Linked DNA regions of Homo sapiens: region 2 is linked to region 1. The links come from fine-mapping of genetic effects on gene expression. Tissue or cell type: whole blood. Region 1 holds a variant in brackets; the other region holds the start of a gene. All regions are shown on one strand. Distances are between the middles of the regions.

What was found. PIP is the estimated chance that this variant, and not a neighbour inherited with it, causes the effect.
Region 2: FXYD6 starts here. The variant in region 1 is fine-mapped to the expression of FXYD6 in whole blood (TOPMed, PIP above 0.99).

The regions. Positions count from the first base shown.
Region 1 is chr11:117,840,533-117,843,211 of GRCh38, reverse strand. It overlaps FXYD6-FXYD2 (FXYD6-FXYD2 readthrough), which reads left to right. Exons shown (of 10, transcript NM_001243598.4): 2 at 431-493; 3 at 1,184-1,222; 4 at 1,347-1,421. The coding sequence starts at 436. FXYD6 (FXYD domain containing ion transport regulator 6) reads left to right here. Exons shown (of 8, transcript NM_022003.4): 2 at 431-493; 3 at 1,184-1,222; 4 at 1,347-1,421; 5 at 2,028-2,064. The coding sequence starts at 436. Among named protein-coding and RNA genes, the nearest start is that of FXYD6-AS1, 8.2 kb to the right of the region's middle. RefSeq lists an enhancer at 301-1,500. The variant C/G (reference allele first, on the strand shown) is at 1,078.
Region 2 is chr11:117,875,455-117,878,133 of GRCh38, reverse strand. It overlaps FXYD6 (FXYD domain containing ion transport regulator 6), which reads left to right and starts at 1,476. Exons shown (of 8, transcript NM_022003.4): 1 at 1,476-1,542. FXYD6-FXYD2 (FXYD6-FXYD2 readthrough) reads left to right here and starts at 1,476. Exons shown (of 10, transcript NM_001243598.4): 1 at 1,476-1,542.

The sequences.
Region 1 (2,679 bases):
TATAATCCCAGCCCTTTGGGAGGCTGAGGCAGATGGACCACTTGAGGTCAAGAGTTCGAGACCAGCCTGGCCAACATGATGAAACCCTGTCTCTACTAAAAATACAAAAAATTAGCCGGGCATGATGGCACACGCCTCTAATGCCAGCTACTCAGGAGGCTGAGGCAGAAGAATCACTTGAACCTGGGAGGCGGAGGTTGCAGTGAGCCGAGATCATGCCACTACGCTCTAGCCTGGGCAAGATAGCGAGACTCTGTCTCAAAAAAAAAAAAAGTCAACTGCTTGTGCTTAGGTTGTTTGAACCCTCACCAAGTCATGAGTGCAGAGCAAAGCTGGGGATTTGGCTTGGCCCCTGGTCAGGCTGACGCTTGGAGCTGACGGATGGAGGCTTCTTAGCCAGAGAATCATTTTTTCCTCCCTCTGTCCCCAGACGCCATGGAGTTGGTGCTGGTCTTCCTCTGCAGCCTGCTGGCCCCCATGGTCCTGGCCAGTGGTAAGTACCCCTCTGGGACCTGGCTGTGACAAGATGACAACCCTGTCCAGCCCTCTCTGCTGGAAGGTTCTGGGCCCCTTGGGACATTAGGGCTGGGGGACTCTCACGTTCTTCATGTCTAGTCAGGGGCCTCTCCCTTCAGTCAGCAGAGAAAGTCGTGGAGGTGGCAGCTATTTATTCACAGACCTCAGCACAGCCTGCCCCCTCGCCCCCTAAGGGTCCGGCAGGGAGTAGTTTTTAAGCCCCGCAAGCTCACTGCGCCTCTGTGGATTTGTGGCCTGAACCCTGGGATTCAGACCTGCACATCAGTCTCTAGACCATATTAGCAAGTGCTGGCCTCGTGCAAGTCATATGTCCTTCCTTGGTCTCGGTTTCTCCGTGTGTCACAAGAGGAAAACTGACCCTGCCTTCTGGGGATGATGTAAGAATACAAAGGGGCAATGAATGTGGGTGTTGCATGACTCAGAGCCTCACTGAGTTTCGATGCCTTCACTGACCTCGGCCCTTAGGGTTCCCCTAACCCCCTAACTGGCAGGCCCGCCCTACCGTGCACCTCTAGGCATCTCTGTTTAATGGGCCCTGCT[C/G]CTCTGGAATTCCTTTGTGGAGACTGAGGTCTGTGAGGCAAGGTTAGATATTTGGGAACCAGTTTGTGTAGCTTTCTTTCTCTTGACCAACTGTTTGTTTTTGCAGCAGCTGAAAAGGAGAAGGAAATGGACCCTTTTCATTATGGTGAGCGATGGCAACCCTGGGTGCAGGGGTCAGGGGGAATGCAGCCCTGCCTGGCAGGAGGGGTAGGGGGAACAGACACCCTCTCCCTGGCCCCTTCCTCTCTCACCCTTGGTTCCTTTGGCAGATTACCAGACCCTGAGGATTGGGGGACTGGTGTTCGCTGTGGTCCTCTTCTCGGTTGGGATCCTCCTTATCCTAAGTAAGTTTGTTCTTTTGCTCACTCTGTTAAGAGCAATGACTGAGGCTGCTAAGCAGGTGGGGACAGTGTGAGAGCCTGGTTGGTCCCTCTCCTGGAGAGGAAAGGAGGCTGCCTGCCCTCCGTGTTATCTTCACGACCCAGTAGAGTGCTGGGCACATAGTAAGTGCTCAGTAAAACAGTGACACGGGAACAAAGAAAATGTCATATGACAATGAGCATAGATAGGAACGAGCAGGGTGGCTTCCCAGTGCTGTGTCTATAGGGCATGAATGGGGCAGTCACGGAGGAAGGAGACAGGTGCTGCCCTAGTGTGCGAGGGATGTGCCTCCGAGTTTGTTGTTCCCACATGAGCCTGATCTGCACAGATCCCTCTTTACTCACATGATCAAGAGGGCTGTGGGGGTGTAGCCATTCCAGCTATAGAATGTATTTCCTTTGCCCCAGAAGAAGCTACCCCATCCGAGGGCCACTGTGTGCAGCTGTGCAAACTGTGCACTGCCCAGGTCTAGGGGGTGCCATTTACATAGTCCCACAACCTGCACAGACCCTTGGCCCTGCTGTGGCCAAGCCAGCAGCATGACCTTGGATGGTTTCTTTGCTTTTCAGGTCGCAGGTGCAAGTGCAGTTTCAATCAGAAGCCCCGGTAAGGATGCCGTGGCAGTGGCCTTGGGGGGGTGATACTAGGTGGGACAGGAAGGGACCCCTGGTGTGTGACCCCCAAATGGGCATTCTCTTGGATTCTTGTCTCGGAGGCAGAACGTGTGTGTTGGGACGTAGGGCTGGAAGTTTGAGGACTGCCAGGTAGACTCTGGGGCAAAGGAGAGGTCAAAACATTGAAGGTCAGCCCATCCTGTCTCTTCTGATCTATGTGGGGGACGGGGAGTGGACAAGAAAGTACTGGAACCTTTTCTGGAGGCCCTTGGGACAGTTGAGCTTGGGAGAAGGGAAGCAGAGGGCTTCCTGGCCTCTCTAGATGCCCAGGTCCTCTCTACAGGACCTGCGACACAGTCCCCACTTGTCACCTGTTCATGAGGCTCTTTGAGCTGAATAGACACTTGGACCTTCTTTCTACTCCCACATAGAGGTCATACCCCATTAGTTTACTATAATAGCCAAGGGTAGCTTGGACCCCAGAAGTCCAAAGCGTGTGGCAGGACACACCCAAGCCCCCATGTGGCCCTAGCCTCCCCTTCCCATGAGGGCTGACATTGAAGGGTGCCTGTAAGTTCCCTCTGAGTCTGACCCTTCAGTCCAGACC
Region 2 (2,679 bases), 35 kb before region 1:
TCAGGACTGGGCCAGAGTGGCATCCATTCAGCCAGGTCCCATGATTAAGGGGCCAGAACTATCCCCTGAGGGGAGGCTTTTTGGGTGCTCTTTCTCAGTAGCTATTTATGGTTCCCCTACTGGTTCCAAAGTCTTCTTGAGTTCATGTATATTTCCTGCCTTGGGGTTTTGAGACCTGACCTTTTATTAAAATAATTAGATCATCTAGGGCAGAGCTGGAAGAGACCTCAGGATCATCTAGTCCATCTCCCTATTTTCCCAAATGAGAAAACAGGCCCAGAACTGAGGGCAGCAGAGGCAGGGCTAGGTTTCTTCCTAGCAGTACCCATCATCCCCGGCTTGGGGTTTGTAAGGAACTCTCCGTGGCCCTACCTAGGCTTGGACAATCACAGCCTTTCTCAGTAGCTCCTCCCTCCACCCGGCTCGGCCATACACACACCTTGACTGAGGCTGGACAGCCTCCATCTCAGCATGGCTCCTGGCTACTGACACTTGTGCCTGGCCTCTGCCCCTTCCTACAAGCTCTGCCCCTAATAGTAAGAGCCAATTTCTTGAGCACTCACTATGAGCTAAGCCTCCCATGGGGTCAGTCTCTAATCACCATTTTCCCACGTGAGGAAATAGACTCAGGAGCTGAGTGCAGAGATATGCTCCAAGTCGCGTCACAGGCAGGGTTGCCGAGCCAGGATTTATTTACATCTTCACATTCAAAGTTCGTCATCATGAATTTTGACTCTTGGGGACTGGGCTGAGGACGGGGTGGTACTGCTCCTGGCAGGGCCAGAGGTGGATGGGGCTTGAAAAGGGGGTTCAAGGCAGCAGATCTATGGTTCAGGTAAGGACCATCCCCCCAGCTCCCCACCTGGCTCTAGCTGAAAATGACAACTACAACTGGAGCTGGCTCCTGCGCCCACGACACAGCCATTCATGCTTTTGGTGCACATTCCCCTTAATTACCAAGGCTCCCAATTAACGTGGGCTGCTGTGTCTGGTGCTGGGTTATTTTCTCCTATTTTTCCGTTCCTCGGGGTTTACTATTGCAGAGAGACACCAGGTCTGTCATTGTGCCTGTCTTGCTCCCTTCCCACCCTAACCAGAGGGAAACCGAAAAGCAACAGCTGATGGCAAATCCGCTCCGGCGCTTGCACGCCTCCTCGGCGGCAGTCTCCTGTTGCTTCTCGGAGCTTGACTGCCCTTTGGAAAAATCTCTCCGCCCCTCGAGAGGAGAGAGGAGCAGAGGACGCGCGCGAGCACAGAGCGGGAGGACGGACAGGGAGAGGAGGAGAGGGGGTCTGCGCGCGGCCGCTACCCAGAAGCCAGCGGACGGCAGCACGGAGTGGGCTGTCCCCGAGCCCAGCCCCGAGCGAGCCCCCCCCCCGCCCCCGCAGGACGCGCCTCCCAGCCAGCCCGACTCCTAGGAGGAGGGGAGGCGGGAAAGCAGCTCAAGCCTCACCCACCGCCCTGCCCCCAGCCCCGCCACTCCCAGGCTCCTCGGGACTCGGCGGGTCCTCCTGGGAGTCTCGGAGGGGACCGGCTGTGCAGGTAGGCGGCTGGGGAGGTGGGCAAAGTTGGCTCCTTTTTCCGAGGAGGGGCGAGGCTCGGTGGGGACCGATCTCTGGAGCGCCGGGAGCGCCGGGTTTTGTGTGTTCAGTGGGTGTGTGCGGTCCTCCGCGGTCAGCTGCGCCGCGGTCCCCGCCTGGGCAGCGGGAAACCGGGCTGGGGATGTAAACAAGGAGATCGGCGTCGGAAGAGAGAGGAGCCTCTAGGGGAGGCAGGCTGTGGCGCTGGGGGTGACGCTGGTGGCTGGGAATTGCTCTCGGTGCTGCCTTGAGCTTGGGGTCAGGGTTTTCAGGAGAAGGGGAAAGGGCTGCGCCCACCCTTTATCCATGAGGAGTTTTCCCTTTGTTACTTGGAAGCTGTGGACACTTGGTGGAGCGTGGGGAATTACGGACGAGGGCGTGTGGCTGGGTGTGAGTGTGGACTTATGAGCGACACAAAATGGAACTTGCTGGTTTGGTGCTTGGGGAAGGTGGGGCTGGGCAGTGGGCACAGGATGGGGGCGCAGGGAAAGAAGGATTCTAGCGCTCGGGGATTCATGAGAGTGCATCATTTTTTCCCTCCTTCTTGTCTTATCCATCCAATCCTGTTTCCTTTCCGGGGGGCCCTGGGGTCCGCCATTGCCCCCTTTCCCCAGCAGGGCTGGCCCTGGCAGAGCCTCCCCTATTGTGTCTCCCGGGCTTCCGTGGAGAGTTGGGTGTGCAGCCTGGAGCTCCCAGCGCTGGCTTCTGGCTCTTACAAGTGGTGGCTGGTAGAGGAGGCACCCGAGGGTGGGAGCTGGGAGCAGCCTCGCTGGAAACATGGGTCTGCCGCGTCACCTGCTGCAAGCCTGCACGCTCGCGGGACCGTGGCTACTGGAGGCTTCTCCCCACCAGTGTGCTCTCTGCCACTACTTCCTTTGTCTCTGTGGCTTCGTGCTGTCTGGCTGGGCTAAGATTTCCAGCTTTGAAGATGGATCAGTGGGCATCTCAGGCCCTCTCTGAAAGGAGCCCCCTTTGGGGATCCAGCCACCCTCATATTATGGATGTGTATGTCTACGTCCGCAACTTAGCCTTTTGCACGTGACTTGCCTGGTCGTTGCCATGGAAACTCCTCCATTTCTCAGCCTCCCTCTTTCTCCTG